Linked DNA regions of Homo sapiens: region 2 is linked to region 1. Evidence: fine-mapped QTL for protein levels in blood plasma. Region 1 holds a variant in brackets. A gene starts in the other region. All regions are shown on their forward strands.

Region 1 (4,347 bases):
TACCTCTACCTCTACCTCTCCCGCCGCCAGGGCACCACCTGTCTGTCTTCTGTGTGAGTGGGGAGTAAGGGGAGCCTAAAATGCTGGACAAGGACCCCCTTTCCCCAGGACTTTAAGAAGCAGGTGCTCTCTGCCCACTGCCTAGGATGTGGGGACAGCAGCCCATAGCGTGCCAAGACTCCCGACCCAGGGCACAGGATCTATTTAGGAATTTTGCTGGAGACCTGGGAAAAGGGGACAGTGGGAGGAAACTTGGGGGGCCAAACTGTATACGCTGGACTGTGATGAAGCCAGCACTCTCTTTGACCCTGTCTGAATGTCTTTGTCTCCCTGCATCTGTTTCTTTTTTCTCTGTCTCTGTCTGTATCTTTATTTCTGTCTGTTTTTATGTGCCTTTTTCTTTCCCCTTTCCTCTTTCTTTCTCCCTCTCTGTATCCCCCTCTGCCTTTTCTGCCTTTTTCTTTGATCGTCTCTGCTGCCATGTGGTTTACCTCTGTATTCTCTGCCTCTCTCCAGGTCTTTACTCTGACTTTTTGTCTTTCTGTCTTTGTCTCTGGTCCCTCCCGCCCTCAACCCCCCGCCTCAGGTTCCTTTGGGTGTTTGTCTCTTTCTATTTTGGTCTTTTTCTGTGTGTATACATCCATGTCACCCTCTCTCTCTGCCACTCTCCTCCCAGGCTGGCCACTACTCCTGGCCTTCTCCAGCTGTGAACAGTTCATCAGAGCAGGAGCCCCAGAGGCAGCTTCCGGAGGTGCTAAGTGGCACCTGGGAACAACCTCGAGTTGACGGGCTGCCTGTGGTCACCGTCATTGTCGCTGTCTTTGTTCTGCTGGCAGTCTGCATCATAGTGGCAGTCCATTTTGGGCCAAGGCTGCACCAGGGCCATGCCACTCTCCCTACAGAGCCACCGACCCCAAAGCCAGATGGTGGCATCTACCTCATCCACTGGCGGGTGCTGGGCCCCCAAGACAGTCCTGAAGAAGCACCACCGGGCCCTCTTGTCCCTGGCTCCTGCCCTGCGCCAGATGGACCCAGGCCCAGCATCGATGAAGTCACTTGTCTGTAGGAGGGAGACTTTGGAGAGTTAGCCTGACCTAGCTCAGAACAAGAAACCGGGCAGAGAACTAGGGCAAAAGCAAATTGGAGCCTGGGCATCAGAGCGTCGGAAGGGCACACTGGACTCAGCTGGAGCTGCTCTCTCAGAACATTTATAGAGAGAGCCCTGTGGTGGGCAAGAGAAATCAAAACTTGAGGGCCCTGCCCAGAAACATGCTGCGGGGGGCCTTCCCAGGGCCCAAGGCCACCTCACAAAGTCCCTCCCTCCTCTTCAGGGACCACCAGACCCCTGAATCTCCTTTTCTGAGTCTCTGCCCCTTCATTGCACGCTTAATCTCCTTCCTTTGTAATGTGAATCCAACTCCCCACAAGCAGGAATGTCAGAGGCCCCGTGGAGAGGCCCTCATCCTACAAAGGCCAGCCAGGGAGAGCCCAGGCGGAGAAGCTGGGATCTGCCTTCCCTTAGGCTCACTGGTCTTAGGGAAGTGACGAACGTCTGTTCTCCTTGGGGCAGTCAGTCAGGGGCAGTCCTTCGGCTGTTAGGGCCCAGACCTTGTTGACAAGCTCCGAAGTCCTTGTAAGCCCAAGCACAATTTATAGTTCAAAGATTGGCTTTCAAAGGCCCCCACTGACTCTGTCTTGCCTCTCCAGAAGGGATGGGGGAATTTGGGAGCCTCTCATTGCCTCCCACTTTCTGTGTGCCTGGGCCTGTTGGAACAAGCCTAGAATGTACCACAGGACATTTCCCAGATCTTTCCGGCTGATGAGAAAACAGGAAAGGAAAAGGAGCTCCATGGAACTTGTTTTGGGAAGGAAGGAGTGGGGTGGGGACCACTCCCAGCTGTGGGAGTGCCTGGGTCTAATCAGCAGGGGGGTCAGGATGATGCATCCAGAAGCCAGGAAGACAAAACTGGGCCTCCTGGTGGCTCAGTGCCTGCTGGTGGCACTGCCTTCCCCAGCACCTCTGAATCTTACTCATCTGCAGTCAAGAACACGCAGACAGACATTTATGGCAGGACCTCTGGTGCTCTACCCTGGGGAACTCCTGGGGACAAGAAGTCCCCTGGGGGCATTGGCAAGACCCCACCACAGTCAGGGAGGCTGGGAAATAACAGAATATAAAAAGGAACAGAGGTGGGGATTGCAGTGTGTGCAGAGGGCAGGCTTGCCTCCTTTGGGATTGGGGAGAGGCAGCTAAAGTGTTAATAGCTGCCCCTTGTTGTGGGTCAGCTAAGTGCTGGACACCAGGCTTCTCTGTGGACCTACAGATATGATACCATTCACTCCTCACAACAACCTCCAGGGGAGGGGCCACTGCTATCCCCGTTTTACACTTGGGGAAACTGAGGGTTATCAAGATACCTAAGTAGACACAGGTCCTAAGTGGTGGAGTCAGGATTTGAAGCTGGGGCCATCAGACTCCACAGCCTAAGCCCCATGACAGTTACTGGATGGATTGGAAAGGCCTTTGATTCTGGGCTGGTTTCTAGTATACAAGCCACTGGTGTGATGATGGAGGATCTTCAGGCCTTGAGGACAGGGTGGGATACTTAGGGAGAGTGGGGACTGTTCCCCCTTGACTCCCTTGGCTCTGCCGTTCTTAGGGGCAGCCAGTTCCTTCTAACCCATGTGTGTCTGTGTGGAGCATTTCTCCACAGTGATGCTGTACTCAGAAATGTATATTGAGCCTTTGTGACCAAAAAAAA[A/C]CAAAACAAAACAAAACAAAAAAAACCAAAACAGGCCAGGCACAGTGCACGGTGTCTCATGCCTGTGATCCTAGCACTTTGGGAGGCCAAGGTGGGAGGATCACCCAAGGTCAGGAGTTCAAGACTAGCCTGGCGAAACCCCGTCTCTACTAAAAATACAAAATTAGCCGGGCATGGTGGTGCATGTCTGTAATCTCAGCTACTCAAGAGACTGAGGCAGGAGAATCGCCTGAACCCGGGAGGCGGAGGTTGCAGTGAGCTGAGATCGTGCCGTTGTACTCCAGACTGAGTGACAACAGCGAAACTCCAACTCAAAAAAAAAAAAAAAAAAGGTGGGAGGGAGGGAAGGAGCCCAGCTTGGTGAGACAAATGGAACTAACAGAGATGGGCTGCCTTCCCTCCCAGATGGGGACAGCTGTGCCACCACAGTGTTGAATCAGTGGCTCAGTTGTAACCGTGATGGTGGAAGGTATGGCACGGCAGCTGGCTGTGCTGTCCAAGGCCCTCCAGGGACTGTCCCATCTCATCACACAAACTCTTTCCCCCTTGTCCGTTTGCAGGCTCTCTCATCTGGCACCTATAGTGACACCTGCTCCTTTGAGTGGCCCCTTGCCCAGGACACAGCTGTGTTCCTTCATGGCATCATTTGTGTGCTGGCTCAGGCCAGCCTATGGTCCCTGCTCCCCAAGCCTCTCACTGAAGAGAAAGGCACTGAAAGGACAGGTGCCCTCAGCCCAACTGGTAGGCTCTGTCCAGATGGTAAATGACACGCAGCACCCTGCTGCCCTGTACCAAGATGAGGAGGGGTGCAGGGAGGCATGCATGTGCAGGCAGGTTTGGACATTAGGGACAGTAATTCCCATCTGTTATATCGGTCAGAGTCCAGCAGGAAAAAGACGACACACTCACATTGGGTAATCTGAGATGTGCTTTAAAAAAGGACCGTTGAGAAAGGGGTGGAGTATAAGGAAACCGCAAGTGAGAGGGAGTACTCTAGTGGGGTGGGGGTGCCGATACACAGCTAGGCTTAAGGGGCCAGGGAAGGAAGTGGTGCCAGAATCCTAGAGATAGTCATGATTACGCAAGAGTTGCCCGGCAGGAGAGTCCATAGCAACCTTGATGCTGCAGGGTGGGAGCCGGGGGATTCAATACCCCAAACTCAGCCTCCTCCTCCTCTCCATTCTTCTGCTGGGGCTCCCCAATAATGGAACATGACCAGGAGCCAGAGGGCGAAGGAGCCTGTTGATACCATTGAGAGAGTTCGGCGTCCCCGGGCAAAGGAAGGGGAGAAGGGTGGGGAGTGGGTCTGGAAGGCCCCATGAAAGACACCTGGCACACCCCCTAAGTACACTAGCATCCAAAGTTTATGAAAAACTTCCACACACTCAGTCCTCACAACAACCGTGAGGGAGGTAAGGCAGTGATTATGATCCCATTTCACAGGTTGAAGACACCGAGGCTCAGAGAGGGGAAATGACTGGCCCAAGGGGACAAGACGCATCTTAAGATGTCAAGTCCTGGACCCTTCCCTGCAAGGCCCCCTGTGGAAGGAAATAGCTCTGCTGGACATTCAGCCACTGAAGAG
Region 2 (4,390 bases), not on the chromosome of region 1:
GAGGTCATTATAAGTGAATTAAGCCAGGCACAGAAAGACAAATTTTACATATTCTCACTTGTTTGTGGAAGCTAAAAATATTAAGACAATTGAACTTATGGAGATAGAGATTAGAATGATGATTACTAGAGGCTGGGAAGAGTAGTAGCGGGGGAAGTGGGGATGGTTAATGGGTACAAAAATATACTTAGATAGAATTAATAAGATCTAGTGTTTGTTAGAACAAGAGGATGACTATAGTCAACAATAGTTTATTGCACATTTCAAAATAACTAAAAGAGTATAATTGGATTGTTTGTAATACAAAGAATAAATGCTTGAAGTCATTTACCCTGATGTGATTATTACTCATTGTATGCTCGCATCAAATATCTCATGTACCCCATAAATATATATATCTACTATGTGTCCACAAAAAATTTTTAAAAATAATAAGAATTGGCTTAAAAAATGCTGTTTCCTGGGCCCCACCCTAGACTGATGGTCAGATACCTAATGTTGACAAAAAAAGTCAAACTCTGTAAAACATTTGAAGAGATTTATTCTAAGCCAAATATGAATGACCTATGGCCTGTGACACAGCCCTCAGGAGATCCTGAGAACATGTGCCAGGCCACAACTTGGTTTTATACATTTTAGGGAGACATAAGGCATCAATCAATACATGTAAGGTGTACATTGGCTAGGTCCAGAAAGGTGGGACAATTGGAAACAGGGAAGCGGGGCAGCTTCCAAGTCATAGGCAGATTCAAAGATTTTCTGATTGACAATTTGTTGAAAGAGTTATTATCAATAGAAAGGAATGTTTGGAGACATCCAATAGAAATTCAATAGACAATCATTAGAAAGGAATGTCTGGGTCGTGGAGACCAAGGTTTTATTATGCAGATGAAGCCTCCAAGTAGCAGGCTTCAGAGAGAATAGGTTGTAAATGTTTCTTAATACACTTAAAAAGAGCATGTTCTGGCTGGGTGCAGTGGCTCATGCCTGTAATCCCAGCACTTTGGGAGGCCAAGGTGGTTGGATCACCTGCTATCAGGAGTTCAAGACCAGCCTGACCAACATGGCGAAACCTCGTCTCTACTAAAAATACAAATATTAGCCGGGCATGGTGGTGGGTGCCTGTAATCCCAGCTACTCGGGAGGCTGAGGCAAGAGAATCACTTGAACCCAGGAGGCAGAGGTTGCAGTGAGACGCAATCATGCCACTGCATTCCAGCCTGGGCAACAGAGTAAGACTCTGTCTCAAAAAAAAACAAAAACAAAAACAAAAAAAGAGTGTGTTCTATTAGTAATTCCAAAAGGAAAAAGGATGTAATGAGGCATATCCAGCTTCCCCTTCACATCAGTTTTCAGGTTAACTTTGGAATGCCCTTGGCCAAAAGCAGGGGTCCAGTCACATGGTTGGTGAGTATGGCCTTAGAATTTAATTTTTTGGTTTACATTAGGAATGCTTCCACATTCTCTCAAACAAATTTTAGTCACAGTTTTGAATAACGTACTCTGGCTCAGCCATTGCAGGTCTCAAGCCGTTAGGTTTCATTTTCCTCCTCCCAACGATTTTAAATTAGTTTCACTTTCCAGTTTCCTCTTCCTTCCCCTAAAAGCAATTACTCAAAAACGGAGAAAACATCAGCTGATGCGTGCCCTACTCTCCCACCCCTTTATATAGTTCCTTCAGTATTTACTTGAGGCAGACAGGAAGACTTCTGAAGAACAAATCAGCCTGGTCACCAGCTTTTCGGAACAGCAGAGACACAGAGGGCAGTCATGAGGTCAGTGAAATAAGAATGCATAATCATGCTTGTTTTTGAGTGCAAATTGTAAGTTGAGTTTCTTACTGTGCAGGCACATTCCTGAATTGTCCTGATGTTTATAGATTCAATATGTCTTTATCAGTCTGAGCATTTGTAAGATGTTTGAGGGGTTTTTCCCTGTGGCTTTTTTTGGTGTACACACAGGCTTCTTAAGTTTCTGGAATGGTTCCCTACGGAACTACATGGGGGGAGGCAGGGTGGGGAATGCATCAGCTCATGTTTCCTCCCTGTGTGCAGCTATTTCCTGCAATGAGAGGAAGGCTTGGCAGGAGCGGTGTATTTCACTCAGCCACAAACTTGGCTGATTCAAGGGTAGACCTAAGGGAATTACTCTTTTGGGTTTTTCTGTTATTGTCATTTTGTTTGAAAAGATTAAGTCACAGGCTTTTTTTCTTGTAATTTTAAAAGGAGGAATTTATTTTCAACAGATATTGTGAAAGATACAATCAGTACTGCAAACCCACTCATGAAGAAGGCAATTTTGCCCTGAAACGTTGCATTACTTTAAGGTGGGAAGTGGAAGAAACAATTCTTACAAATGGGCATTTTTGTCATTTCTTATATAAAAACAAACCCAAAGCTTAGCATTTATTTTTATTGATGTAGTGAATGCTGGTCAGCAGCAAAAAAAGAATTTCTCCTCAAAAGTGTAATGACCTAATCTATTATCTAAAACTAGTCTAATCTCTAATGGTGGGAAGCAGATCAGTGGTTGCCTGGAGATGGTGGGGATTGAGTAGGAAGGCTCCCAAAAGAATCTTTTTAGAATCATAGGAATAGTCTATAGGGAGGTAGTGATGGTGGCTACATATGCATAAACATTTACCAAAACTCATCAGACTATACACTGAAAATGGGTGCATCTTATTGTATATAAAGCATAATCTCAGTAAACTTGATTTTTAAATTTATATATTGACCTCCTGGAGTTCTTCAGGGGATAGCATGTTAGGGAGAACTAAGAGAAAAGGATGCCTTTCCCACCAAGCATCTCTAGGAAAGGAGTGAGGAGGTGATTGCCAGGGAGGGAAGACCCCATCGACCATTCAGGGGGGCAGAAAAGGAAAACTGGATTCCCTACCTTACTCTGCCCCAAGGACTTGAAGATGCTCTGCAATGTCATGTTTGGGGATGAGATGGGTAAGAGGAATTCACTGCCAAATACCTCAGTATATAGAATACCCTTTTATATAGAATAAGTTCCTGGTCAAGAGTGATGTTAATTGTGTCTGTGTGAGTGGGATTGACCAGAGAGCAAGGCGTCTTAGTAGCCAGCTTGCAGGAAAGGTTTTACAGGGTCCTGTCTTTAGGTGTGTCTATAGCCACTGACCTGAGGAGGTCTGAGGGGGGCTCTCTGAACTATGCTGGACTCAGGTTCACATCAAGGTGCTCCTATTTCCAGAGGCTATAGGAACAGGAAGAGATTGGGCTGCTCCTCCCCAGTTGTGCTAAAAATTTCCAAATGGGAAAATCACCTGGAGAACTCACTGGCACGTGCCAGCTGATGGGCATCCTCCTCTGCCCCATCCACTGAGGAACTCTGTTGCTCCCTTTACACACTCACAAATTCACTTAAAATTATAACACAAATATATTAGTACCAGCAATCATGGTGGTAACATTTCTTTGTGATCTGTAGTTAGTGGTTTCATGCAAGTCCGTGTGAAGAGACCACCAAACAGGCTTTGTGTGAGCAACAAGGCTGTTTATTTCACCTGGGTGCAGGTGGGCTGAGTCCGAAAAGAAAGTCAGGGAAGGGAGATAGGGGTGGGGCCATTTTATAAGATTTGGGTAGGTAAAGGAAAATTACTGTCAAAGGGGGGTTGTTCTCTGGTGGGCAGGTGTGGGGGTCACAAGGTGCTCAGTAGGGGAGCTTTTGAGCCAGGATGAGCCAGGAGAAGGAATTTCACAAGATAATGTCATCGGTTAAGGCAGGAACAGGCCATTTTCACTTCTTTTGTGGTGGAATGTCATCAGTTAAGGCAGGAACTGGCCATCTGGATGTGTACATGCAGGTCACAGGATATGATGGCTTAGCTTGGGCTCAGAGGCCTGACAAGTGGGCACTGTGTTAAACACGTTTTACGCATGACCTCATATCACCCTTCCAACAGCCCTAGGAAGTAAGAGCTATTATTTCTATTATTAGCCTCATTTTCTAGATGACCAAAATGGGGCTTAGAAGGGCAAATTACTTGCCCAAGACATCAGATAGAGAGCAGGTGTCAGAGCAGAGTCATTAATGGAGGCACCAAACTCTACTGCTGATCATCTGACTCTATGCCCAATGGCCAAAAGGTGAAAGATCTTAATGCTTTCAACTATGCTCACTTTAGAGAGGGGGCCAGGGATGGGCTTCCTATCTGGAGAGTAAGGGCCAGCCTTTGATGGTTACCCATGCCTTAGAGTGGCCAAAGCCACAAGAACTGAACCCAGATCTTGGAGAAGGGTGAAAGTGGTTCTCCCCAGGGCATAATTTTCTATCATTTGGATGAAGGGAAAAGGAAATTCATCCTAGGGCATTTTAAGGATAAGGGAATGAGGCTCAGTGATATGACTCAAGAAATATCCCA

Which allele goes with the higher level. Alleles are on the strand shown, and positions count from the first base shown. The strength of an association depends on the size of the effect and on how common the allele is.
As copies of C replace A in region 1, the plasma level of the protein whose gene starts at base 1,694 in region 2 goes up (moderate association).

Evidence for each region. A credible set is the group of variants that fine-mapping cannot tell apart. PIP is the chance, under the fine-mapping model, that this variant and not a neighbour inherited with it causes the effect. The UK Biobank Pharma Proteomics Project read protein levels with antibody pairs (Olink). The fine-mapping took linkage between variants from a reference panel, not from the people measured, so its PIPs are less certain.
Region 2: it holds the start of IFIT3, and the variant in region 1 is the best candidate, but not a certain one, in a credible set for the plasma level of the IFIT3 protein (UK Biobank, PIP 0.76).

What each region holds. Positions count from the first base shown.
Region 1 is chr5:139,471,856-139,476,202 of GRCh38, forward strand. It overlaps SMIM33 (small integral membrane protein 33), which reads left to right. Exons shown (of 2, transcript NM_001365197.1): 2 at 677-1,845. The coding sequence ends at 1,066. STING1 (stimulator of interferon response cGAMP interactor 1) reads right to left here. Exons shown (of 8, transcript NM_198282.4): 8 at 3,678-4,347. Among named protein-coding and RNA genes, the nearest start is that of SMIM33, 3.0 kb to the left of the region's middle. RefSeq lists enhancers at 701-1,222, 2,787-3,308. The variant A/C (reference allele first, on the strand shown) is at 2,763.
Region 2 is chr10:89,326,304-89,330,693 of GRCh38, forward strand. It overlaps IFIT3 (interferon induced protein with tetratricopeptide repeats 3), which reads left to right and starts at 1,694. Exons shown (of 2, transcript NM_001549.6): 1 at 1,694-1,775. The coding sequence starts at 1,771. It also overlaps a transcript of LIPA not described here. RefSeq lists enhancers at 1,462-1,701, 3,923-3,982 and a silencer at 2,022-2,071.